Regions from separate parts of the Homo sapiens genome. Here region 2 is linked to region 1. The links come from fine-mapping of genetic effects on gene expression. A gene starts in region 1. The other region holds a variant in brackets. All regions are shown on one strand. Distances are between the middles of the regions.

Evidence for each region.
Region 2: its variant is fine-mapped to the expression of TREH in esophagus mucosa (GTEx, PIP 0.96).

The regions. Positions count from the first base shown.
Region 1 is chr11:118,675,513-118,683,834 of GRCh38, forward strand. It overlaps TREH (trehalase), which reads right to left and starts at 4,138. Exons shown (of 15, transcript NM_007180.3): 1 at 4,027-4,138. The coding sequence starts at 4,115. RefSeq lists enhancers at 3,368-4,029, 4,030-4,689.
Region 2 is chr11:118,606,651-118,614,972 of GRCh38, forward strand. It overlaps PHLDB1 (pleckstrin homology like domain family B member 1), which reads left to right and starts at 965. Exons shown (of 23, transcript NM_001144758.3): 1 at 965-1,049; 2 at 7,166-7,246; 3 at 7,909-8,032. The coding sequence starts at 7,187. It overlaps LOC124902765 (a long non-coding RNA gene), which reads right to left and starts at 1,861. Exons shown (of 2, transcript XR_007062908.1): 1 at 1,473-1,861; 2 at 1-538. RefSeq lists silencers at 1,457-1,546, 1,607-1,676, 4,192-4,251 and enhancers at 1,804-2,098, 2,136-2,810, 2,811-3,484. The variant A/G (reference allele first, on the strand shown) is at 4,066.

The DNA of each region.
Region 1 (8,322 bases):
TACGGTTATGCTTAGGGCTATAGTTTTATTATAAGAATACAAGCCAGGATCAGCCAAATGAAGGGGTGCATGGGGCAAGGTCTAGGGGGGCCCTGAATGTAGAGCTTCTGTGTCCTTTCCCCATGGAACCAGGACGTTTCCCCTCCTGGCTCATCAATGTGTTCACCAACCAGGACTTGGTATTTATTTGTTTTATTTGTTTGTTTGTTGAGACAGGGTCTCACTCTGTCACCTAGGCTGGAGTGCAGTGGTGCAATCTCAACTCACTGCAACCTCCACCTCCCAGGTCAATGATTCTCACGTCTTAGCCTCCTCAATAGCTGGGATTACAGGCATGCACCACCACACCCTGCTAATTTTTGGCATTTTTGGTAGAGACAGGGTTTCACCATGTTGGCCAGGCTGCTCTCAAATGCCTGGCCTCAAGTGATCCATCCACCTCGGCCTCCCAAAGTGTTGGGATTACAGGCATGAGCCACTGTGCCCAGCCTACTTACCAGGACTTTGAAGTCCAGAGTTTTTATTGGGGTTTCATGACATACGCATGATTGATTGAATCATTGATCATGTAATTGAACTCCATCTCCAGCCCCTTCTCCTCCCTGAAGGTTGAGAAGTTGGGCTGATATCATGTGGACCAAAACCCCAACCCTCTACACACATGCTTGGCCTTTCTGGCACGGCCTGCCTTCATGTGGAGTCGTCTTGTTAGCAGAAGCTGTCTAGGGACCCACCATAAGTCACCTCATTAACAAAAGCTACCAAGAGCCTGGGAAACATGGCAAAACCCCATCTCTACAAAAAATACAAAAATTAGCCAGGCATGGTGGCACACACCTAGTCCTAGCTATTCAGGAGGCCAAGGTGGGAGGATCACCTAAGCCCAGAGAGATTGAGGCTGCAGTGAGCCATGACTGCACCACTGCACTCCAGCCTGGGTGACAGAGTGAGACCCTGTCTCAAAAAGCAATCAGGCCAGGTGCAGTGACTCATGCCTGTAATCCCAGCACTTTGGGAGGCCAAGGTGGGTGGATTGCTTGAGGTCAGGAGTTTAAGACCAGCTGGCCAACATGGTGAAACCCCGTCTCTACTAAAAATACAAAAATTAGCCAGGCGTGGTGGTGCGTGCCTATAGTCCCAGCTACTTGGGAGGCTGAGGCAGGAGAATCACTTGAACCCTGGGGGCAGAGGTTGCATTGAGCCAAAATGCTCACCACTGCACTGCCAGCCTGGGCAACAGAGCTAGATTGCTGTCTCAAAAAAAAAAAGAAAGAAAAAAACAACAACAAAAAAACACTAATCAGGGACCACTATTAATAACAGACATTCCTATCACTTGGGAGATTCCAAGGAGCTTAGAGGTTACTTTGGAGGAACCCAAGACAAAAATGAAACTAATTCCTCATTATACAAGAAGTGGCTTATACATGAAAGGATTGACTCAGCAGGTCTGCTGTGTTCAAACCCTGCACATTTCAGAGAAAATTCTGGCCTGTGACCAGCCCTGAGAGATGAGATTTAAATTACCAAAATATGCTGCCTGATAAGTCTTTGTTTTTCTGGGGCCTTGGGCCATGCCAGATATTTGATGCTAATAATGTGATTTGTGGCAGGGGCCTTTGGCCGCCCAGTATCAGTTTGAACTCTGGAGAGTGAGTAACTGAGGTCAGCCACACAGGTAGTCCACGCTTTCATCACTGACCTCCAATAAAAACACTGGACACCAAGACTCAGGTGAGCTTTTGTGATTGGCAATACTTCATGCGTGCTGTCACATGTTATTGCTGGAAAAATCAAGTCCTGTCCATATAAATCCACTGGGAGAGGAAAAACTGGAAGATTGAGATTATTTTCTCCTGGACTTGGCCCTAGAATATTTCACCTTTGATGGCTTTAACATGTATCTTTTCACTGTAAGAAACCATAATCAAGGCTGGGCACGGTGGTTCATGCCTGTAATCCCAGCACTTTGGGAGGCTGAGGCAGGCGGATCACAAGGACAAGAGATTGAGACCATTCTTGCCAACATGGCAACACCTCTGTCTCTACTAAAAATACAAAAATTAGCTGGGCGTGGTGGCAGGTGCCTGTAGTCCCAGCTACTGGGGAGGCTGAGGCAGGAGAATCGCTTGAACCCAGAAGGTGGAGGTTGCAGCGAGCCGAGATTGCACCACTGCACTCCAACCTGGCGACAGAGCGAGACTCTGTCTCAAAAAAAGAAAAAAAATGAAACCATAATCATGGTATAACCATTTGGAAGTGTTAGTGAATCACTGGCCTGAGGTTGGTCTTAGGGAACACCAGTAAAGTCATCTTCCCCTACATTTGGCAAACAGCCTAATGCTTGACAAAGCACTGGACCACCCAGCCTCTCTGAAGTCCTCATTACAATTGCTCAGGACAAAACCTATTAATTATCCCAGGTACACTTTTCCCCTTTATATTCCACAATTGTCATGGGCAAGCACTGTCAACTCTCCCTGTAACACACACCCTCTATTGAACCCCTTGTCTCTGTCTCTAGTCTAACCACTGGAACCCAAGCCCAAACCTTGTTGCCTGGAGCCCCGCTCTCCCCGGACCTGTTCCCACTCTGCCCCAATCACACAGGCCTTCGTCCCAATCCCTGAACAGTGCGTCAGGGCCTCTGCATGGCCCTTTCCATGCCTGGACTGTCCTCTCCCAGATCAGCTCAGCAATGGTTCCTGCCACAATTCTGCTTACACATCACCTCCTCAGAGACACCGTCCCTCCCCATCCTCTCTAACACACCCTCTGCTCACCCACACCAGCGGGCCCTAACTTCTCTCTACTTCAAACTGTGCTTCTGTTACTGTTTTGCTTCTATTATTATTATTATTATTATTTGAGATAGAGTTTTGCTCTTGTTGCCCCGACTGGAGTGCAATGGCATGATCTTGGCTCACTGCAACCTCCACATCCCAAGTTCAAGCGACTCTCCTGCCTCAGCCTCCCGAGTAGCTGGGATTACAGGCGTGCGCCACCATGCCCGGCTAATTTTGTATTTTTCATAGAGATGGGGTTTCACCATGTTGGCCAGGCTGGTCTCGAACTCCTGACCTCAGATGATAGCTCCCACCTTGGCCTCCCAAAGTGCTGGGATTACAGGCATGAGCCACCGTGCCCAGCTGTTTTTCTTCTATTATTATTGTTCTTGCAGGAGCTGGTAAAGTGGCTGATGTGGCCACAGCTCCATAAATCCATGTGGAACGAAGGGTGGACATCGCCTGAGTCCAGGAGACAGGACAGGGTCACTCATCTCTGTCCCTGGTGATGGAAACTCAGGCTCAGGAAAGAGCCTTGACCTGCCCTGGGTCACAGAGAGAATATGAGGGTCAGGGCTCAAGCCCAAGTGCTGTCTTCAGGCCCTTAGGCTGCCTCTCACACCCAGACTAGGAAGCTGGAGCAGAAAGTTTGCTAGAACAATCCTGAGAAGAGGCCTGCACAGTTCAAGGGGCAGCTTGGAGGAGGAGAGGAAGGGAGGGCGGGCTCTGGCCAGCAGGCTCTTGGACCTCAGGCCAGGCTCTGGCAGCTGCGTCTGGTATCAGGACTGCAGGTCCCGACAGGGGGCGGTGGCTCACGCTTGTATTCCCAGCACAGTCGCCAAGCCTAATGTCCCTTCCAACGGTGGAAAATTTTGGTAAAAATCAATGACAGGCTGGGCGTGGTGGTGCATGCCTGTGATTCCAGCTACTCAGGAGGCTGAGGCACGAGAATCTCTCGAACCCGGGAGGTCTAGGCTGCAGTGAGTGGAGATGGTGCCACTGTACTCCATCTGGACGACCGAGCAAGACTCTAACAACAACAACAAAAAAAACGGACTGCAGGTGCAGTGCCCAGCACAGAGCCTGCTACATAGGAATTCTCATTTTCTTCTCTTCCCTACTCTTTCCTTCCTTTATAATCTCTTCCTTTCCCTCTGAAGTACCGACCCCAGAGCTTGAGATCTCATCCCAGCCTCCCTCTTATTGCCATCCTCCCCTGCTGCCTTCCCCACACCCCTACCTCTCACAGGGTGGGGGTAGGGCCTCCTGGGACCCCAGTCCCAGCCCCAGCAGCAGTAGCAGGCACAGCTCCCAGGTCCTCCCTGGCATGGTGGCTGTGACTGTGACTGAATGAGCAAGCCCAGGCACCTTCGGCTTGCTGGGCACAGCCTGGCTCACCTGCCTGTCCAAGTCGGCCAAAGTCCAGCCTTTGAGGCGTGGCCACCTGAGGGGACGTGTGCTTGGTCTGTGTGTGGCCCGCTTGCCCCTCCTGCTCTCAGGGCACAGTGGCCACCTCCCTTGCTTCTACTTTGCCTCTTCTATTTCACAGTCTCAGCTGGTGCCAATGGCTCAGGCCCTTCCCTCAGAGCATGGTGGTGGGGGTGGGGAGTGGGCACCCAAAGGCCAGGGACACAGTCGAGGCCACACACCTGTAACCTGGATGCCAGGTTCCTTGGGTGGCCCCAAGACCACCAACCTCAGAGAGTTACCATTTCCCTTAACATTTCAAATGGAATGGCTCAAGATCCTGTCCCTGGTGTGGTGTGAAATTCAGGGCCTCTCACTGTTATCTGCAAGAGATACAGCGGAAGCACAGGACAGTAGAACCATTCTGTCTGGGGAGGACTAAGGGAGACCCACAATAGTGTGTCATTTGTAATGAGTCTTTTTTTTTTTTTTTTTGAGACTGAGTCTCACTCTGTCGCTAGGCTGGAGTGCAGTGGCGTGATCTCAGCTCACTGCCACCTCCGCCTCCCGGGTTCAAGCAATTCTCCTGCCTCAGCATCCTGAATAGCTGGGACTACAGGTGCCCGCCACCACGCCCAGCTAATTTTTGTATTTTTAGTAGAGACGGGGTTTCACTGTGTTGGCCAGGATGGTCTCAATCTCTTGACCTCATGATCTGCTCGCCTTGGCCTCCCAAAGTGCTGGGATTACAGGCGTGAGCCACTGCGCCAGTCCTAATGAGTCTTGATGACCGCATAGGAGTTTGCCAAGGGAAATGGGCTGGAGACCACTACAATGTATGCAGAGCATGTGAAGAGAAGAGCAAACCCCTCAGCCTAGCTGCAGAGAACTTGGTGTTCATGCAGGGAAGGGTTTTGAGATAGACTGGAGGAACATGTTGGCACCAGTCTGGAAATGGTCTTTGCCAAGCCAAGGAATGTAATTCCTTGTAATTCCCCAAAGTGGAACCAGCAGAGAAGTTTGTGAGCTTAAGAAGCAGATTCAGGCTGGGTGCAGTGGCTCATGCCTGTAATCCCACCACTTTGGGAGGCCGAGGCGGGTGGATCACCTGAGGTCAGGAGTTCAAGACCAGCCTGGCCAACATGGTGAAACCCCGTCTCTACAAAAATACAAAAATTAGCTGGGCATGATGGCGGGTACCTGTAATCCCAGCTCCTCAGGAGGCTGAGGTGGGAGAATCGCTTGAACTCGGGAGACAGAGGTTGTAGTGAGCCGAGATCATGCCACTGCACTCCAGCCTGGGCGACAGAGTAAGTCTCTGTCTCAAAAAAAAAAAAAAAAAAAAAAAAGCAGATTCGGTTACTTTAGGAGGCTCATCCCCTCAACATATGGAAGGTGAGCTGAAGGGACAGGGGACAGGGGGTGGGCAAGGCACATGGAGTTTAATGATAGGCATGACCTCTCCTGAAGGACTTAGGTTTGCAGTTAAGGATGTCAGTTGTGGCACCTGAGCAGTGTTTACTGCTATTAAAAAGAAAAACCTTAGACAAATTAAATTTAACCATTTATTCAAGCAAAGAAATGACTCATGAATCAGGCACCACTCTGAACTAGTAAAGGTTCAGATAGCTCCACCCAGTAATGTGGGCAGCTGGCATTGTTTTTTTTGTTTGCTTTGTTTTTTGAGACAGGGTCTCGCTCTGTTGCCCAGGCTGGCATGCAGTGGCTCCATCACAGCTCACTGCAGCCTTGATCTCTCAGGTTTAAGGGATTCTCCCACCTCAGCCTCCTGAGCAGCTGGGACCACAGGCACATGCCACCACGCCCAACTAATTTTTAAATTAAAAATAATTTTTTTTTTTTTAGAGATTGGGTCTCCCTATGTTGTCCAGGCTGGTGTGGAACTCCTGAGCTCAAGCAATCCTCCTGCCTCATCCTCCCAATGTATTGGGATTACAGGTGTGAGCCACCATGCCTGGTCAACAATTTTTAAGTGTACAATTCAATTTCCTTTTATTACATTCACAATGCTGTGCAACCACCCTTGCATTCTTTGGATAAATCTCACTTGGTCATGATGTCTAATCCTTTTAATAAACTGTTGGTTTTGGCTTGCGAGTATTTTTTTGAGGAATTTTGCATCAATATGTATAGAGCATATTTGACTGTAATTTTCTTTCCTTGTTTTGTTTTGTTTTTTTTTTTTTTTGGACACATAGTCTTGCTCCATCACCCAGCAGGCTGGAATACAGTGGCATGAACACAGCTCACCACAACCTCGACTTCCTGGGGCTCAAGTGGTCATCTGGCCTCAACCTTCTGAGTAGCCAGGACTACAGGTGCATGCCACCACGCCTGGGTAATTTTTAAATTTTTTTGTAGAGACTACATCTGACTGTGTCGCCCAGGCTGGTCTTGAACTCCTGGCCTCAAGTGATCCTCCCGCCTTGGCCTCCCAAAGTGTTTCTCCCCAAGTGTGAGCCACCATGCCCAGCCCTCTTGTGATGTCTTTATCTGGTTTTAATATCAGGGTAATGTTAGCCTCATAGCATGAGTTAGGAAATATGCCCCTCTTCTATTTGTGGAAGTGTTTGAGAAGGATTGTTAATTCTTTAAATGTTTGGTAGAATTTACCAATGAAGCCATCTGGTCCTGGACCGTATTAGGCAGAAACAATACATATATGGGGGATGGGGGTAGAGAGAGAGAGTTTGAGAGGTAGCTGGCAAGTCCAAAATCTCTAGGGTAGGCTGGCAGGCTGGAGAAACAGGGAAGAAGCTGCAGTTCAAGTCTGAAGGCAGCATGCTGAGAGAATTCCTTCTTCTTCTGGGGAGGTCAGTCTTTTTCAAATTAAAGTCTTCAACTGATTGGATAAGGCCCATCCAAGTTAGGGAGGGTAACCTGCTTTACTCAAAGTCTACAAATTTAAATGTTATTTTCATCTAAAAAATATCTTCACAGAAACATCTAGAATAATGCTTGACCAACTATCTGGATACCTTTGCCTAGCCATGTTGACACATAAAATTAAACATCTTTTTTTTTTTTTTTGAGATGGAGTCTCGCTGTGTTGCCCAGGCTGGAGTGCAGTGGCATGATCTTGGCTCACTGCAACCTCTGCCTCCTAGGTTTAAGCGATTCTCCTGCCTCAGCCTCGTGAATAGCTGGGATTACAGGCGCCCACCACCACACCCAGCTACTTTTTGTATTTTTAGTAGAGATGGGTTTTCACCGTGTTAGCCAGGCTGGTCTCGAACTCCTGGCCTCAGGTGATCCACCCGCCTTGGCCTCCCAAAGTGCTAGGATTACAGGCATGAGCCAACGTGCCCAGCCAATGTTCTTTAAAAAAACACATGACTCTACAGTGATTGTACTAACTTACATTCTCACCAACAGTATATGAGGGTTCCTTTTCTCCACATCCTCACCAGCATTTGTTATTGCCTGTCTTTTGGATAAAAGCCATTTTAACCGTAGTGAGATAATATCTCATTGTAGTTCTGATTTGCATGTCTCTGATGATCAGTTATGTAGCGCACCTTTTCATATACCTGTTTGCGACTTGTATGTCTTCTTTTAAGCAAGGTTTATAGTGATTCAGATCTTCTGCCCATTATGCAGACTGGCTTTGTTCTGGGGGAACACCTCATTATATTGCGCAGGCTGGTCTCAAACTCCTGGGCTCAAGCAATCCTCCCACCTTGGCCTCTCAAAGTGCTAGGATTACAGGTATGAGCCACCATGCCCAGCCAGTAGTGTTTTTTTTTTTTTTTTTTGAGACGAAGTCTTGCTCTATCACCCAGGCTGGAGTGCAATGGCATGATCTTGGCTCACTGCAACCTCCGCCTCCTGGATTCGAGTGATTCTCCTGCCTCAGCCTCCTGAGTAACTGGGACTACAGGCGCCCACCACCACACCCGGCTAATTTTTGTATTTTTAGTAGAGATGGGGTTTCACCATATTGGCCAGGCTGTTCTTGAACTCCTGACCTCATGATCCACCCACCTCAGCCTCCCAAAGTTCTGGGATTACCGGCATGAGCCACCACGCCCGGCCTCCAGCAGTTCTTTTTTTAGTATTATATGTTTACAACTAACCAAGTCTACTCAAATAACACTACATTTCATGG
Region 2 (8,322 bases), 69 kb before region 1:
GACCAAGAGCTGGCTTTGCAAGGTAAGGATCCACTGTCAGCGTTGGATTTCGGAGTGGAGGTTGAGATGGAGAATGACTTCAACCTAGCTCAATTTGGGGGCTGCTTTTAGGTGTTTAGTGCCTCCTTCTCTTCCTTATTAACTCCCACTCCTACTACAGGTTGGTGTGCTCAATTGTATGTCTATAGCCTGCCTCCATCTCCCAATCTGTAATCCAGCAAGTCTGTCGGGGTGGAGGGGTGTGGAGCTCCATGGGGGCAAGATGATAATTCCATTCGGTTTTCCTGTGCTTTGGAGTTTGCATGACACTTTAACGAGTCTTCTTGTGCCTATCCTTAAGAAAGTCTGTGAAGCCTGATGTGCGTGGCTATCAATGTCATTTACAGCTCTTCATGGTGGGGCTTGGAATAGGGCGAGGGGAGGAGGTGACAGGGAGAAGACCTGGGTACCCTCAGTAGATGTTCTGGAGATGTTGAGAGCATGTTGTAGGGGCTTCGATTTGGGAGGTTCAGTGGGAGCCCGTGGAGGTTTCAGGCATCTAAGGCAAAAAGAAAGAGGGGAGAGTTTGGGGGAGGGAGAACGGATTGTCAAAAACACCCTCTCAAAAGCGTGTTAAAGCCTGGGAGTGGAGGGTGGTCTAGGAGAGTCGGGAGGGCAGGGTGGGAGGAGAGGGGGATGTGTGGTGGTGGTGGTGGTGGTGGTGGTGGTGGTGGTGGTGGTGGTGGTGGTGGTGGTGATGGTGGAGAGCCCAGCTGCAAAGATGAACAAAGCGGGCGCTGTGCAGGCTGGGGGAGGTGCTGCTGTGGGAAAGGGTGGGTGGGGGGACCTTGGGCTCCAGCCCCACAAGGGCGTCTTCTTTGGCTGGCCAGGCGGACGGGACGGGGGACGGGGGCGGGGACTGGCGGGAGGGGGGCGGGACAGGCTCGCTCTCCTCCTACTTAGCGAGCTCCCGGGGAAAAGCAACGGTGTCCTCCTAAGCCTGAGGCCACCGCGACCGAGCCGAGCCAGGCTAAGGGACCAGTGTCTCCCTGCCCCCCCCCCACCTCTAGGTAAGAGCGCCCCGTCCCACTACACTTGCGGGTCCCATTCGCTGCGGTGCTAGGACTGGATAAGGGGAAGTCCCCGGGGCCTGGCGAGAGCCCTGAGATCAGCTCTAGGCTAGGGAGCTCGGCAGAAACCCGTGGGGGAGAGAGGGCACCCCAGGTGAGTGCGTGGGGGCGAAAGGAGCGTTATGGGGAGTTTTCCTGTGAGCCTCTTGCTTTTGCCTTCCTCGGCCGCTGCCAACGCCACCGCCAGAGGGGGCCGTGACGCTCTCCCCCCCTTGGAGAAACTCTGATCCTGGCCCTATCCAGACTCTCCCGCCGGCACCCAGGCGGCCGGGCGGACACTCGCGGGGTATCGGGCGGCGAGCGCGCGCGCGGGTTTTCGTCCTCCAGCGCCCCACACCTCCCCCTCTCCGCCCACAGCAGGACCTTGGGGCGGGGGTATCTCCTGTGACGTCTCCCCGCCTGTCCCCAGGCCGGCCGCCTTGATGGACCAGGAAGGGATTCGGAGTCCGGCTCAGAGTCTTGAGCGTCTAGGAGGGCTGCCTGGGGGTGTCCAGGAGATGGGAAGCCCGCCTGGGGCCTCCCAGGCACTCCCCAAGGCCCCACGTCCTCGGGGGCCGGGGAGGCCGCCTGGGGCGCCTTGCCACGCCCGCGCGGTCCCTATTGGAATCCCTAGCGGAGTTCCCCGAGCGGAGGCTGACCCAAGTCATCCGGGCTCCCCCGGGATAGGGAAGTGCGGGCGGGCGGCTGGGTAGGGGCGCCGGCGCAGGGTGGCCGAGTCGCCCGCTAGCGCTTCCGCCGAGGCAGGCTCGAGTGGGGACTTGGCCGGGCGACCGCACAGCCCTGCCGGGGACCCACGGCTCTGGGGCGGGGCTGCATTCTGGGCCGTTAGCTCAGCGGTCCTGGAGCCTCCCGAGGCTGACTCATCGGGCGGCGGGCTCACCCCCCAGCCGTCAAACGCAAACGCAGGCGCCCCACCACGCCGGGCTCCCACGCGGCACACACGCACGCCTCCGCGACACTTCGCACACCTACGTCCCTGCGTCACGCCACCCAGACACACCCGGACCCGCCCACACGCCGAGGCCTTCCCACGCACTCCATGCCTTACGCCTCACAGGAAAGCGCCCCGCGCTCACGCAGCCCCTCACACCCGCAGCCCCGCTTACACGCGCCCCAGCTCACACATGCACCCCAGTCACACAGCCTACCTCACACACGCACCCCAGTCACACACACAACCCAGCTCACACACGTACCCGTCACACATGAGGCCCCAGCTCACACACGAAGCCCAGCTCACACACGCAGCCCCAGCTCTCACACACACACCCCAGTCAAACACGAGGCCCCAGCTCACACACGAAGCCCAGCTCACACACACTGCCCCAGTTACACAGCCCAGCTCATGCAAGCAGCCCGTCACACACACAGCCCAGCTCACACACACAGCCCAGCTCACACAAGCAGCCCGTCACACACACAGCCCAGCTCACACACACAGCCCCAGTTATACACACACAGCCCAGCTCACACACGCAGCCCGTCACACACACAGCTCAGCTCAATACACAGCCCAGCTCACACACACAGCCCCAGTTACACACACAGCCCAGCTTACACACACAGCCCAGCTCACACACACAGCCCATCACACACACAGCCTATCACACACACAGCTCAGCTCAATACACAGCCCAGCTGACACACGCAGCCCAGCTCACACATACACTCCAGCTCACACACGCAGCCCGTCACACAGCCCCAGCCACACACACAGCCCAGCTCACACACGCAGCCCAGCTCACACATGCAGCCCCCTCACACATGCAGCCCCAGTCACACACACAGCCCAGCTCACACCGCAGCCCCAGCTCACACACGCGGCCCCTCACACACATTCAGCCGCCCTTCCCGCAGCTGCCAGGCTCGGAACGGGCGGTGTCTGTGGGGGCCGCCCCGTTTCCCGGCCGCGCAAACAAGCGGCTCCTTCTCTCTGCCCCGCCAAAGAAAGGCCGCTTGTCAGGGGCGGGCGGGCAGGCGGCAGCGGCAGGCGCCCAACACTGCGGCCTTGTCCCACGCGGGCAGCCTGGGCAGGAGCAGGCCGAGGGGTGCAAGGGGCCGCTACCTTGCGGAAACCTCCCTCCCTCGGCCCTGCGGACCGCGGAGAGGCACCTTTCCACCACCGGACACCCAAGCAACAGCCCTCGCTCCATCCGCGCTCTCCCGGCTCCCCCTCTCCTCGGGCCGCCCATCTCTCCTCTCTTCCGCCTTTGGGGTCCCGGTGGGCCCCAGCCTCCCTCTCCTTCGCCCCATCTCCCCGCCCGTCAGCCTCCCCTCCGCTGCCCTCGCGCATCCCCAGTGTTCCCGTCTGTCGTCGCCTCCACTTGAGGACCCGCCTGTCCTTTCTTCCCCCGACCCCTCCACCTCTGTGTTCTTCAGTCTCCCCGCATCCTCTGCCCTCGGTCTTCCCCTCCCCAGCTTGCATTTTTTCCCATCTCTTAGTCTGCCTTTCATTTTCCCCTTCACATCCCGGTGGCTCCCCTTCCCCGCCCCGTCCCTCTGCACACCCCCATTCATCTCTGTCAGGTTTTTCTCATCCTTAAGTTCTCTCGTCCCCCTCCCCACTCGGGCGTCCCCCGCTGGGCTCCCCGCCTCAGTTTCCTTCCCTTCCTGACTCCTTCCTCTGACGGCGGCCCTTTCTCGAGGGCGGATGTGCGCCTGGAGGGCGAAGGCGGCGGCCGAGAGGACCCCAGCTCGGCCTGGCGGGCCTCTGGCCACAGCCATGCACCGCTTGGGCCGAGGCCGAGGCCGACCCCCAGGGACACAGGTGAGGCCGGGCGACCCGCGGGGCTCCGGGGAGCGCCCGAGCAGTGGCCCCGCGAAGGGCCGGGTCTGGTGCTCTGGGGCTGGCTTTGGACCTCTCGTCCTGGGACTCCGTGGGAGCCCGGGAGCTGTGTCAGTGCCCGTTGGTGCTGGAGCCAGTCGGCCCTTCCTTGGCCTCCTTCAGGCGGGGGCC[A/G]AGACCCCCGAGAGTTCACTCTGGGTGCTCCACTCGGCGGAGAGGGCTTCAGACTGGTGTCCCGCGTGGCTGGGGTGTCGGCGCATTCCCGCGGGGGAGGAGGCCGAGGGCCCGGGCCGGGGTCACCTGCCGGCGCCCCGGCCTTGCGCACAGAGGGCCTTGCCTGTCGCTCGTCAAATCCAGACACCTGGGCCTCCGCCACTCGGCTGCCGGGGCGGCACTGGGGCGTCTGTACCCAGCGTGCGGGAGGGCACCCAGGGCCGGACGCGCACCGCAGGGGTCTTTTTTTGGCCGCGGGGCCGGGCGGGCGGGTAATGACAGCCGGGTTGCTGGGGAGCCGCGGGCCAGATGGAAGCGGGGCCGCAGGTGAGGGACGTCCCTCGCGTAGCGCCACTCAGCCGCCGGGGCCAGAGCGGGAGTCAAGGTGAGGGCGCCCCCAGGTGGCCGCTCTCGGCCGCGGCGATCGCCCTTTGGGAAAGCACCGCCTGAGTGCAGGGCAGGTTGGCCTGGTGTCTCTTTCCACTTCTCTTGGATCAGGTTACTGTGCTGGGGCCACAGCCTCGCACCTCCCAATCTCTCCATCTTTTCTTATCTTCTCCCCACACCTCTCTCCTTATCTCTCCCTTTACTTTCGCCTCCTTATTCTCTTCTCTCCTCTAATCACTCTTGTTCTCCATCGGCCTTACTCCTTTACAATCTTTATCTCCACTTGAAGTTCTTGGGTGTAAATAAATGAGCACACCACAGCTGCCCCACACGGCGATAGTGACCAATACTCCAATATGACAGATAAATAAACTAACGCCCAGACAGGTGAACTGCCTTGCTCCAGGTCACACAGCTCATAATAATAAACGGGGCCAGGCGCGGTGGCTCACGCCTGTAATCCCAGCACTTCGGGAGGTCGAGGCGGGCGGATCACCTGAGGTCGGGAGTTCGAGACCAGCCTGACCAACATGGAGAAACCCCGTCTCTACTAAAAATACAAAATTAGCTGGGCTTGGTGGCAGGAGAATCGCTTGAACCCGGGAGGTGGAGGTTGCGGTAAGCCGAGATAGCACCGCTGCACTCCAGCCTGGGCAACAAGAGTGAAACTCCGTCTCAAAAAAAAAAAAAAAATAATAATAATAATAATAAATGGCATTAAGTGCTTTGCTTTCACAGAATGCCATTTAATATAATACCTGAATTTCAGACAGTCCTTTTTAAAAAACTGACAGCTTTATTGAGGTATAATTTATATACTATAACATCCACCCAATTTAAGTATGCAATTAAAAGATTTTTAGTATATTTACAGAGCCATGCAATCATCACAATTTAATTTGAAAACATTCCCCCCACCCCACCCCCACCAAACTTGTGCCCTTTTACAGTCACTCCTCATTCCACCCCTAGCCCCAGGCAAGCACTGATCCAGACAGTCTTTTTTATTTTTTTCCATTACTCTAGTTTTATAGAAGAATAACTTGATAATCAGAGAAGTTAAATAACTTGTCTAGGATCTTATAGCTAATAAATAAATAAAGTCAGGGTAGAATTTAAGGCTTTATATATCCCAGTCTAAAGTTCTTTCTACCAAAGGATGATGTTTCTCCTTCACCATTATTTATTATTTTGTTTTTCTTAACCCCTTTTTTACATAAACTCCCCATTCCCAACCCACTCTCTTGCCCCTCCTCCCTCAGAAAATGCTGAGGGATTTCCCTGAGTCTAAGGAAGCAGTACAGCAATCTTTGTCCTTGGAAATTCTTCTCCATGGCCAGGAATTCTGGGGAGGTGCCAGGCCAGCTTGGGGCTTTGCATAGGTTAATGGCGTTTTCCCTCCCCTCTTCCCTGGCAGTCTTGGGGTGGGCCCCAGCCTGGGTTCCGGCCTCTCTTCCGCCAGCTTGGGTGGAAATGGTGACGGAGATGATGCAGTCCAGGTCCGGAAGGGTGGAAGCTGGGAGGGTAAATTTAGTAACACCATAGCTAAGGTCCTCGGGACCCACTGCCAGGGTCAGACACTCCTTGGAATGCGGGCTGCTGCCCCTACTTCCTTTCCAAGTCCCCTGGTAGATGGCTTGAAGAGAGAGTGGAAGGAAACCCTGTTTCCCTGGGTCTGCCTCCTTACCCCTCAGCCACACTCTTAGCTTTCCCCAGTAACATTTCAGCAGCAAGTGGGAAGTTTCTCAGCTTAGCTAGTTGGCCAAGGGATGGGCATGGGGGCATACATTAGTACACAAAGGTCCTCACATCTCAGATACCAAAAACATGAGCCAGGGAGAGAGGGATGCATGGTGGGTGAGGGGCAGTGGGGTGGTGGTGGGGAGTATTCAAGTTCTGGCTCTGGAATCTGTCTTACTCCTGGTTCTAATGGTTTAAGCTTCCTATAGCACCTAGCCAATTAAGAACCCAAGAGTTGAGCCCAATATTCCCAGTATTAGTTATCACTAAAGTTTTTTGTTTTTAATTAAAAAAAATTTTTTTAGCTGATTGTGTTGGGTTGAGGTTGCTTTCTGGGGAAGAAAAGGTGTAGGAGTTGAGACATCTGGAGATAGCAGGAATGGCTGAGTTTTTCTTTTGTGTCTCCTTTAAGAAAACATCCTACTAAAGCCCTGGGAAAAGAGACAAATGGTGAAGAGGAGAATGAAAGGTTGCAGGAGGGAGCTCCTGTTTTAGCCCTGCCACCTACCTGGGGGCCCTCTGGCTACCAGTGTCCTTGGAGGGGCTTCCTTGCTGCTTCTCCCACTAAGGTAGATTTTCCCCACCCTGCTTAAGGCTCCACAGGGCCAAGGGTCTTCAGCTGTCAAAACCCGGGTTCTGAGTAGCATAGGGCAAGAAAGCACAGAAGTATAGATTGGGCCCTATGGGACTGTTTGTGCTTACAGTGGCAGGGGGCAGGACTGGTATCCATGCTGTGGCTGGCTGGAGACTTGGCACTGCTCCCAGACAACTCCCACCCAAGCTCTTTAGCTGCCTCTATTTCCCTTCAGCATGAGCATTTGGGGAATGATGGTGACTGGTGACACCTCTGCCCTGAGAACCCTGCCACAGAACCTACTTCTTTCCCTCTCCTGCCCTGGCCTCCCCACTCACCACCTTTCTGCTGTGTCCCTAGGAGCTCTGGAGCCTTAGGACCATGGACGCTCTCAATAGGAACCAAATAGGCCCTGGATGCCAGACCCAGACCATGGTGCAGGTGAGTGGGATCAGGGCTGTGAGGCAAGAGAGATATAATAGGGATGGGATCAGCTCTTCTACCCCCTTGTGGTCCCAGCCCAAGGATGAAAGGAGCAATTCTGTTCCTCTCTGCCCTTCCCCAGGTCCCAAGCCTATTAACAGCTCAGTCTTTATCTGAATCAGGTTAATTGGTTCACCCAGAAACTACCCATCGAAAGTCCGAAAGCAGTTTACAGATTGACCCTGGGCTGTATCACTCTCCTTGATCCATGCCTCTATCTTCCCTGTACTTGAGCTTAGCAGGGGCAAGCAATGGCCACGTGGATAGCCATGGACAAGTCTGCAGGGAGCTTGATTGGCCTTCCTCTACAGTACCCCTGCTGCTTATCCAATGCCACCCCCACCCCCCACCCCTTTCTCCTTGCTTCTGTTTTAATAGACAAAAGGCACAGTTAAGCCAAGACTTGCGATAAATCCAGTGGGATGAGTTAGTGGCCTAGATTCAGATCTAATTACAATTTAGTGGAATCATGCTCTGTGTAAGATTTTGTGCTAAGCCTTTCAGCACCCTCAGAGCCCTTCGGAGAGGGGCGAGGGCTGGAGAGAGTGCTGGTGTGACTGGTTTAGGGTGGTAAGGTGCTGAATCTAATGATGCTTGTCCTCCACCCGTACTACCTACAGAAAGGACCCTTGGACCTGATCGAGACAGGCAAAGGGCTGAAAGTGCAAACGGACAAACCCCACCTGGTGAGCCTGGGCAGTGGGCGACTCAGCACAGCCATCACCCTCCTGCCGCTGGAGGAAGGTAAGTGTGAACAGGGCATCTCACTCACCACCCCTCTATCCTTATAGGCATTCCTGCCCTGGAGGCCCACCTCCTGCATGTGTTGGGGCCCTTCTACTGTCTGCTGGTGCTCGCCTCCCCACACCACCAGCTTGCTTCCCTTGTCTCTGCCTCCCCAGACTGCCTGCCTTCCTTGGTAGATGATCTGGTTCCACGACTGGGCTTAAAGATCAGCTTAGAAACAAGGAGGAGAGGCCAGGTGTGGTGGCTCACGCCTGTTATCCCAGCACTTTGGGAGGCTGAGGCAGGCG